Linked DNA regions of Homo sapiens. The protein of the gene in region 2 interacts with the protein of the main gene of each other region in a pairwise test. Each region holds a gene or a part of one and is shown on either strand. Other genes may lie near its edges.

Region 1 (3,655 bases), on a different chromosome or scaffold from region 2:
CATTTTTTAATGCAGTTGGGGTTGACTGGCCCTCCCATACTCAAAAAGATTCCTCCCAGCATTCAGATTTTGTGGCTTCTAGTACCACAGAAAATTCAGGGCACTTTGACAAATTCAGTTCAATTTCACTGATACTTGCTAAGCCTGTTTGTAATTAGGTCTCCTGCTGATTCATCACTGTCTCACTTGGCTACCAACAAGGAGTCTTAGGGGTCAAAGCAAGATTCAGACATAGAGCTTTATTTTGTCCAGACATATAAATCTGATGATCAATAAACCAATTAGTCTAAAAGGCATCCGTGATGCAAGGATCAAGCCTTTGAAGGTGGTAGGGCTTCTACAACTGAAAAAGATTTATGACAGTGAAAAAGGATTGCAGAAAGCGCTGAAAAGGTTTTATCTTGTTAATGTACATACTCTTTTTATTATCCCATTTGATTCTAAAATTATGGTTAGGAACCTAAGAGAAAGAATAGGACATCATAAACAAAGCCTCTTTTATAAGGCAGAGCTGGGACTTCGAGTGATCTAATTCATTTTTTCTTTCATGATATTGCCTTTAGTGAAATGGGGACAACAAAGGCCAGTATATTAAATGCCCAAGATTGGACTACAGAGACTTTAACTCAGCAAGAGCTCTGCCTAGGGCAGGGTGAGCCCTGAACTTTGGGCCTAGCTGTGTACTGATGTGCTGTACAATTTGGGGAAAATCTGTCCTTCTGGGCTCCAGGTTCTTTCTCGGAAAAGGAGGAGGTTGAATATAAACCTCTAATGTCCTTCAGGCACAACATTCCAAAGTCTTAATTCTGTGACCTTCAGACTTAGAATTCCTTTCAGGATAGCCAGGCCTCCAGTGAGTGAACTGAGTCTAAGTTCATTTGGGCAAAATCTGTGAGACTTTTTTGCAACAAGCCCAACAGCTTCTTTTACTTAGATGCATAAAGTAATAAACCCTGATTTTTGTGTCACCCAAGCTCAGGCTATAGCTCCAGGGGAATTTTCAGTGTTCCTCAAGAGTATTGACAGGACCACTAGTAAATTATGGAAAGTCCTCTGAAATGATTTCCTCATGAAAGTCTTCTGAAATACTCAGAGACCTAGAATGTCAGCACTAGAGAAGTTCTCTGATACTGTCTAGTCCAAATGAGGATATTCCCTGAGAGGAATTGACCTGACTTACTGACAGAACCTAGGATGAGGGCCCCCAGGCAGTTTCTCCAGCCTCATGAAGATCCTCCTGACAAATGGTAACCTTGAGAACCACTGTGGTTAGAGGAAGTAGCACTGAGTCTTAGATCCCCACAAACAGCTCTCTCTTTCAGCAACTACTCATTATCTCATCTGTGAAATGTTTACGTTGGTCTTAATGATCTCTGAGTCTTCTAGCTCTGCAGTTCTGCTTCTATCTCAGACTGTCTGGACAAACAAGCAAGGCCTTCTTCTGCAGCATCATCTCTTTGGCTGCCAAGGGTGTTTTGGCTACTGATTTGTATTCTGAGTATGTGTGTGTCTCATTTCATAACATGAAGAAAGGGAAACATTCTCAGACAAGGTTATTCTTAGATGTGGGAACCAAATTCTACTGCAGTCTCTTGGAGCTTTTTGATTTTCCTCAGAGGGATAGTCTCACCACTTTGTAATATGGCTGTCCTTGTGGCATACAGTGGGTAATCCAGCTTCCCCAGGGAAGAGAAAAATTCCAGAGCACATTCTCCAGGAGCATAAAGGAAAGTCATCAGCATCTTTGGCCTGTTAACTTTAAAGAATCATAAAATCATGGCATTTTAAGCCATAACATTTTAGAATCTTAGAATCCTGGAGTCTGTGTTCCAAGCTGGGACAGACCATAGTAGTCATAGATTAGCTTTAGTCTCTCAGACCAGGCTCTGCCTGCATACCCTTAGGACAGAAGCTTACTGTCCCTATAAAGTGAGAGAGAAAATAATAATAGCTGATCTTTATAAAGTGCTTCTAATATGTCAGGTACTGTTCTAAGTGCTTTTTACTTAACAGTTAATGTATTTATCACAATGAAGTAGGTACCATTACTGTTCCCATATCACACGCGAGACTGATGTATCCTATAGCTATTAAGTCTCAGAGCTGGGGGTTTGGACCCAGGCAGTCAGTCTGTCTCCAGACTGCTCATAACCATGGCTCTGTGCTACAGAGCTTTCAGAAACAGGCACCTTCTGATTCAGGGGTGTCCTACTCTCCTGCATAGAAAAGGGATGCTTTCAGCTCTGCTAGGTTTCTCTACACCTTGATATATTCCTTTAAATTAGGGGTCAGCAAACATTCCTGTAAAGGGCCAAATATTTAGGCTTTTAAAAAGGCCATATGCTCTCTGTCAGTGACTACCATTGTAGCAGGAAAGTAGCCTTAGTCAATATGTAAATGAATGGATGTGGATGTGTTACAATATAACTTTGTTTACCAAAACTAGCTTCAATTACAAAAAACATGGCTGAAATTTAATTGTTTTAAATGTTTATAGTATGAATAAAAGATTCTGTGGTAAAATTAATTTGGAAAATACAGTCTTGTACATACTCCCATCTTAGAGATTCACAGTTCACCTCCCCACCTTCTTTAAGAGACAGGGTCCTGCTCTGTCACCCAGGCTGAAGTACAGTGTTGTGATCATGGCTCACAACAGCCTTAGACTCCTGGGCTCAAGCCATCCTCATGCCTCAGCCTCCCAAGTAGCTGGGGACTACACCAGCCACCATGCCTGGCTAAGTTTTTTTCTTTTTTTAGAGATGTAGTCTGTCTGTGTTACCCAGGCTGGTGTTAAACTCCTGGTCTCAAGTGCTTCTCCTGCCTTGGCCTCCCAAAGTGCTGGGATTATAGGTGAGAGCCATCACATCCAGCCCATCCTATTGTTTTAAAAACTTCTCAGGGTCATGGAATAAAAACAAAATCTTAACTGTTTATCTCTATTTTACATATGGGACTATAGAACTCTTTTGTTTCCTTTTCTTTGGCAAAAACAACTATTAAGATCCCTTGGGATCTATAGTACGTTGTCCACATTTGGGAAATGTCTATCTCTGGTTTATCTATAAAACCCCTTTATTTTATAGATAAGTAAATTGTGTCTCCGTACACATCAGATGGTTCCTTCTAGACATCTGCAAAGCTAGTCTCCCTGTCTTCCCCCACAGTATCTGCTTCTCCTCCTATGACCACATTTCATCATTAGCTCCATAATCTAGAAACTTTGAGAAATCTGCTCTAGACTTCTCACTCAGCTCATAGTTGCACTTCCAGTTAGTTTCTACTTCTCTTTAACATGCTTCCCTCTCTTTCATATGTACTTTCCATTCTATCCTCATTGTTACTTATTTCCCAAGCATATTTGATCACAAAACTATGGAAAAAACTATGGATCTGCAGGTGAAAAAATAAATGACGTGAATCCAGGAACAGGCTGACTTTTGTGGCAGCTGTGCAGCAGCTCTCCTATCCTCCTGAGTCATCAGGGGCAGGGGGGTGCTAAGCCAAAGAGGTGTGATGTGGACTGAGAAAGATTTGTGACCATGTGGTAGTTTGCTTTTACTTGGGGTTAAGGTAGAAGAGACCCAGGATCTTTAGAACCATGGAATTTTTGTTTAGGAAGAGATCTTCATTCTTAGCCACCTGATTTTACAAA
Region 2 (3,655 bases):
AGTTTTTCCTGTTTTGCAGAGAGCTATGTATCTTTTTGTTTTTTTAAATTTTTAATTTGCTAAATAAAAGGGACAATGCACAGCATCGAGCACACAGCTGCTGGGAAGCTGTCCTGTCCTCACCCTCTCCTGTCTCCCGCAGGCGTATGTGGGCTCTGCAGTCATGACCGATGAGACATCCGTGGTTTCCTCACCTCCACCATACACGGCCTATGCTGCACCGGCCCCTGAGGTAGGGAGAACCCTGAGCCTCCAGGTGAGGGAAGTTTGGGGTCTCTGCTGCTGTCCTGCTTTGTTTTGTTTTTTTAAATGAAATTAGAAATGTACTCTAAACCTTTTCTTCTTAAAACAGATGATTTCTTATCAACGTTTGTTTTCATGAAATGAAGCAACTATTTTATATAGTTCAGCACATTATAATGTGCTGTATTAATGTGTAACACGTTTTTAAGATAGATCTAAAAATGCATCATGTTAATGATAGTTGCCTTGGGTAATGAGATTTTGATGATCTGTAGTTTATATGGAATGAATTATTTGAATTCTCCTTATAGTCAGAAAAAAATGCTATATTTTAGGGAAAATAACCTTAAAAAATCATGTCAAATACATTGGGATGTCCTCTTGTTGGGGTGCTGACTGAGCTAGTGGAACGTATGTAAGTCTGTTGTGTGGAACACGCAGCTTTTAAAAAAATTGAATTTTGAAATAATTATAGATTCACAAGAAGTTGCAAAGATAGCTTTGAGAGTCTCATGTGCTTTTTATGTGTTTTCCCCATTTGTTAATATTCGATCAAATTAAACCCAGGAATTTGGAATTGGTGTGGTATTTAAGAGTAATCCTGTGTCATTTTCTCATACGTGTAGATTGTGTAGCTACCACCTCAATCAAGATAAAGAATTCTTCACAAAATCTTCCTGCTGTGACACCCTTTAATAGTCATGCCATCCCTCTGCTTCCCTAAACCCTGTCAATCACTGAACTGTTCTCCAGCTCTATAGTTTTATCATTTCAACAATGTCATATAAATGAAATCATATAGCACGTGGTCTTGGGAGTTTAACGTTTTTCACTCAGTATTTGCCCTTGAGATCTGTCCAAGTTGCTCTTTGTCAATAATCCTTTTTATTGCTGAGTGGTTTTTTTTTTTTTTTTGGGATGGAGTCTTGCTCTATCGCCCAGGCTGGAGTGCAGTGGCTCGATCTCGGCTCACTAAAAGCTCCGCCTCCTGGGTTCTCGGCATTCTCCTGCCTCAGCCTCCCGAGTAGCTGGGACTACAGGCGCCCGCCACCACGCCCGGCTAATTTTTTGTATTTTTAGTAGAGACGGGGTTTCACTGTGTTAGCCAGGATGGTCTCAATCTCCTGACCTCATGATCCGCCCACCTCGGCCTCCCAAAGTGCTGGGATTACAGGTGTCAGCCACTGCACCCGGCCCTTTTGAGATGGAGTTTCGCTTTTGTTGCCTATACTGGAGTGCAGTGGCACGATCTCGGCTCACCACAACCTCCACCTCCCGGGTTCAAGCGGTTCTCCTGCCTCAGCTTCCCAAAGAGCTAGGATTACAGGCATGAGCTGATTTATTGGCTTTTCCTTTTCTCGGTTGTGCTTTTGCTGTCAGGTTAAAACTTAACATGACAAACCTAGCCCAAGTTTCCTAAGATTTTCTCCTACATTATTTTCTGAAAGTTTTATAGTGAGGTTTTATAATTATTCTGTATTAATTTTGAATTAATTTTTTATAAGATAGATGTCTTTTTCAGGGCTCTGTTGAGTGTATCTCTTTCTGAGGTCTGTGGTCTGCTCCATTGTTCTGTATTGTTACCTTCCTTTGATCCCACACAGTCTTAATTATTGCAGCTATTATAAAAAGTCTTGGAACTGGGTGGACTGATCAACACCCTCTTTGTTCCTTTTTGGAAATGTTTTAGCTATTCTGGTTCCATTAGCTTTCCATATACATTAGAATAAATTTGTTTATATCTACAATGAAATCTTGCAAGGCTTTTGCAGGAATTGCCTTAAACCTGTGTCATATTTATTTGGAGAGTAATGACATCTTTATTGAATGTTGAATCTTCCAGTTATAAACATGGACTGCATGTGTATTTAGATCCTCTTTGATTTTTTTCATCAGCATTTTGAGGTTTTCAGTATAAAAATCCCATACATGTTTTGTTAGATTTATAAGTGTTTCAGTTTTTTTAGTGATTGCATATGGTATTACATTTTTAGTTTTAGTTTCCTTTGTTTACTGCCAGTATAGAGAAATAGAATTGATTTTTGTAGGTTGATCTTGCAGCTTGTAAACTTTCTCTTTTTTTTTTGAGACAGAGTGTCTCTCTTATTGCCCAGGCTGGAGTGCAGTGGCGCGATCTTGGCTGACTGCACCCTCCGCCTCCTGGGTTCAAGCGATTCTCCTGCCTCAGCCTCCTGAGTAGCCGGGATTACAGGCACGTGCCACCACACTAATTTTTTGTATTTTTAGTAGAGATGGGGTTTCACCATGATGGCCAGGCTAGTTTCAAACTCCTGACCACAGGTGATCCACCTGCCTTGGCCTTCAAAGTGCTGGGATTACAGGCATGAGCCATGGTGCCTGGTCGGCGCCTGTAAACTTTCTAAGCTCACTTACTCTATTTCCTTTTTCTGTAGATTCTTTGGGATATACTACATAGGCAATCATGTCATCTACAAATAGGAATCTGTTTTCTTTGTAACCTTTATGCCTTCTGTTTCCTTACCTTGCCTTGTTGCCTTGGTTAGACCTTCAAATATTATGTAGAATAGCAGTAGTGAGAGAAGACATCCTTGCCTTGTTCCTGATTTTAGGGGGGATGTATTCAGTGTTTTTTTTTGAGATGGAGTCTCGCTCTGTCACCCAGGCTCTGGAGTGCAGTGGCGAGATCTCGGCTCACTGCAAGCTCCGCCTCCCGGGTTCACACCATTCTGCCTCAGCCTCTCTAGTAGTTGTGACTACAGGCACCTGCCACCATGCCCGGCTAATTTTTTTATTTTTTTTATTTTTAGTAGAGACGGGGTTTCACCATGTTAGCCAGGATGGTCTCGATCTCCTGACCTTGTGATCCACCCACCTTGGCCTACCAGAGTGCTAGGAATACAGGCGTGAGCCACCGCGCCCGGCCAGTGTATTCAGTTTTAAGTATGCATTCATTTATTATGAATGTACTGTTTAATTCAGTATTTAATTAGTACTGAATTCAGTATTTAGTTTTACATATGCATATATTTAGTATTTAATGCATTCATTAAGTATGCTGTTAGCTGGAGGTTTTTTATATTTATTCTTTATCAGGTTTAGAAATTCCCTTTTTCTAGTTTCCAGGAGTGTTTATCATGACTGGTTGTCAGTTGCTTGCCTGCCTGTCTTCCTGCCTCCTCCCTCCCTCCCTCCCTCCCTCTCTCCTTTCCCCCGCCCGTCCCCTCTCCTCCTCTCCTCTCCTCTCTCCCCTGACCCCCTGAGAGATGAGGTCTCACTCTCTTGCCCAGGATGGAGTGCAGTGGTACTATCATTAGCTCACTTCAGCCTGGAATTCCTGGGCTGAGGCAATCCTCTTGCCTCAGCCTCCTGAGCCACCATGGCTGCAAAAAAATTTTTTTTTTTTGTTGTAGAGACAGGGTCTTGTTCTGTT
Region 3 (3,655 bases), about 30 Mb from region 2:
GGGTGGGAGGTAGAAACGGAGTCTTGCTTTGTTGCTCAGGTTGGGCTTGAACTCCTGTGCTCAAGTGATCCTCTCACCTCAGCCTTCTAAAGTGCTGCAATCATTAGCATGAGCCATTGCACCCAGCCTAGTGCTTTTAGAAAACATACCATGTTTACTCTAAAGAAAACTAAGCTGAGTCAAAGGGAAACAGTTTTAGGGTTTTCAGATAATTTGTACTAGATTCTGATCCCATTTTATACCAGTTTTCAAGTTTGATTAGTTTTTAACATTACCTGACGTTTTGATGAATTAGCATTCTCATTTGTTTCTATTTTAGGATTATTTCTAGTACAGTTTTTCTCTCAACTAATGCCAAGTATTTAAATCTGCCTGTTGTTTTTTGATATTACAATCTGAACCAGTTTCCCCCCTTTACTATTACAATTAGTCATCCACCTAATTAGTTTCTTGTATTTCTCTCTGGGAAAGTTAAAAGCATTTTTTAAAAGAACACTGAGTTTACTGTTGATTGATAGCCAGTAAGTTTTGGTTAGTGAGACCGCTGTCAAGTCAGAAAGTGATAAGTAATCAGTAGCAAATAAGATCATTCTATCTAGCCCAAACTGTTTCTCACCAAGGTGTCTTAGAAGGGGATTCTGGTACATGGCAAGTGGCAGATGGAGTGAGTTGGGCTCTCCACGCTTACCCCCTCTTTCAACCAGATCACATCCATTTTTAATCTAATCTATATGCTGGGGGGGAGGATGTGCAATATAAGATTTTCCTTGAAATAAGAATTCTAATTTTGTTTTTTTAAGTTTGATAAACTAGAGTTTTAAAAGGTCAAATCCACTCATAAACTCATCTGAAGGGCCCAGTGCTTGAGCATGTGATGAGTGAGGGGAGTGGGGGACCACTTCCCCCTTGGCGCAAGGGGATCTTATAATGCTCTCTTCTAATTGCCTGCCTGTGTACCACAGTTTACTTCTGCTGTGATAGATTTAGTTGATTAAGTGTATTTTTAACACTTATTTTTAAGTTTACATGGAATGAGTACAGTCTGTGAAAAATGGCACCATTCAGGGACAAACAAAATTCATTCAGAATATAAATATTTTATCAGACTGATATCTGACACCCATCTATTTGGAAATGTCTAGCTAATTACATCAATTTTTCTTTCTTTTTTTTTGGGGAGTATCTCATAAACTTAGCCATTTTCCTTGGCATAAAAAGCAAATATATAAGCACTTACATAAATTACTTAATGTTATGTTTATGTTCTTAATAGCTCAGTTTAGCTGTTAACCTGCCTTCTTGGTAACAAAAGCTCTGCCTTTACTCTTATCCAGACAACTTGTTTACTTAACCCCCAGCCTTACTCGAGGGTCGCAAGGGAATCCTTGTCCAGGTATGATAGGAATATCCTGTTGCTCCTTGGGAACTGTCTTTGTTTGCTTTTGAAGTGGTAGGGAAATCTGAGTCTCAACACTTAATTATAGGTAGCTGTATAGCATAGGTAGTTGTAGCAGCACCCACATTTCCCAAACATGTATTTTCTAGAACAGTATCAGTGGAGAAGCTAGGAAGGAATCAGAGAAACTGAAATCATCTGTGGAGGGTTTTCCTAATTTTTTTTGGCATACTGTCCTTACCCCTGGAGCCATGGGAGAAAATGGGAGAATTAGTGTCCTTGGAGCCAAAGGAAGGGAATGGAGGAGTTTTGTATCTTCAAAAGCCTTATAGGTGATTTTGACAGGCAGCTTATTTTCCAATGTAAGATAAAATTTGTACCACAAATAGCTGTAAACTTCTAAGCAAGTAGGATAATTTTTCTAAACTAAACCCCCATATACCTCCAAGTACATCTTCAGATTCTTATGGCTCAGGGATCTCATTTAAAGTATAATGGTTCTATTGACGAAACAACAGTCATTTTATAGCCATCATTTTTTTTCTTTTACTTTTCACAATTTTGTGAATCATCCAAAGGGAAAAAACTTCTTATTTAATGATGGTCCTCAATTGAAGAAAATTTGTAGGGTAGGACTTTAAGAAAAACCGTCTTAAAATATAAACTTGAAAACTTAGGAACATCTAAGAATAAGTACTCAGAATTGTAAGTCCAATTTGAGAAACATTGAACTAAGGTGTTTAGTTTCATGATCACTGATATAGAATCCAACCCCAATTTGCTGGTGTGATTGCACACTAGATAATTTTTTTTTTTTTTTTTTTTTTGGAGTCTCACTCTGTCACCCAGGCTGGAGTGTAGTGGCGTGACCTCAGCTCACTGCAACCTCCGTCTCCCGGGGTCCAAGTGATTCTTCTGCCTCAGCCTCCCAAGTAGCTGAGATTACAGGCGTCTGCCACCACACCCAGCTAATTTTTGTGTTTTTAGTAGCGACAGGCTTTCACCATTTTAACCAGGCTGGTCTCGAATTCCTGACCTCAACTGATTCACCCTCCTTGGCCTCCCAAAGTGCTGGGATTACAGGCATGAGCCACTGTGCCCGGCCTAGATAAATCTTTTATTTGAGAATAAAAGATTTTCATGGCTTTTCATCCTGACAATAAGGAAGTTTTAAGTTTTTAAATTATAGATGGAATACCAGAATTTGAAGGAAACTTTGAGATTACCTAATACAAGCCCCTTAATTCATAGATCTCTAAACTGAGGATCAGAAAGATTGACACAAGGTCACTCAATAAATGGGGCATTTATCTCGTTATCTTGGCATTTGAAAGCTAGGCTATATGAAAAATTAGAGATACTTATAAATTTCATTAATTCATTCATTCATCAGATATTTATTGAGCTATTATTAGATATTGTTCTAGAATTTAGACCCTAGTGATCTTGAAATGAATAGGGCAAAGTCCCTGCCTTCTTGATTTCCCTTTAGTGGGAGAGAAATGCAGTAAACAAGTAAACAAAAATTTCAGGTCTTTGTAAGCATTATACAAGTAATACAGCAGGTTAAGGGAAGAAAGATTTTGTTTAAGGTAGTGTAGTGTGACTATTTTAGGTATATTGTTGTTAGGGAAGACATCTATCTGTAAGGAAGAGAGGAAGGTAAGTTATGCAAAGATGAGAATAGCCTTCTAGGTAGAAGGACAGCAAATGCAAAGGCCTTGGTGTTGGAGTACTCCTTAAGTTATATTAATACAAATATAGGAGCATTCTAATTGGAGTTCATTTGAATTAATAAAGTTAAATCCATTAAGTCGAAATGTTTTTTTTTTTTTGAAGTTTTTTTTCTCTAGACAATGAAGGGGGTATCCTCAAGGCAGAAAAAGAATTACTTTTTCTTTTATTTTTTAGATGTTGCTAAATTTGCATAAGAAGAGTTGGATGGAAGGTTTGACACTTCAGGACTACAGTGAACATTGTAAACACAATGAATCAGTGGTAAAAGAGATGTTGGAATTAGCCAAGAATTACAATAAGGTAAAAGTTACTTCTGCCATTTCTTCTTTATAATCTTTGGAATATGTATGATTAGATGCCAAGCATTGTGTAAGTAATTAAAAATAGAGAATCCTGTTTTGTAAATAAAATAGTAAATATTTGCTTTGCAGTTCATCTGGTCTGCAACTACTCACCCTTGCCTTTGTAATGCAAAGGCAGCCATACACAATATGTAAAAGAATGAATGTGTTTGGGATCTAT

What was found.
Region 1: the proteins of PLEKHB2 (region 2) and FAM168A interact in binary tests that used the Homo sapiens proteins (3 or more experiments, as listed by UniProt).
Region 3: the proteins of PLEKHB2 (region 2) and PSMD14 interact in a two-hybrid assay, tested with the Homo sapiens proteins (one large-scale study listed by IntAct).

The regions. Positions count from the first base shown.
Region 1 is NC_000011.10:73,413,004-73,416,658, reverse strand, and holds part of FAM168A (protein FAM168A), read left to right. Parts: intron 1-3,655.
Region 2 is NC_000002.12:131,132,760-131,136,414, forward strand, and holds part of PLEKHB2 (pleckstrin homology domain-containing family B member 2), read left to right. Parts: intron 1-142; coding exon 143-232; coding exon of another isoform or gene 233-256; intron 257-3,655. UniProt on the Homo sapiens protein: Involved in retrograde transport of recycling endosomes.
Region 3 is NC_000002.12:161,391,771-161,395,425, forward strand, and holds part of PSMD14 (26S proteasome non-ATPase regulatory subunit 14), read left to right. Parts: intron 1-3,307; coding exon 3,308-3,433; intron 3,434-3,655. UniProt on the Homo sapiens protein: Component of the 26S proteasome, a multiprotein complex involved in the ATP-dependent degradation of ubiquitinated proteins.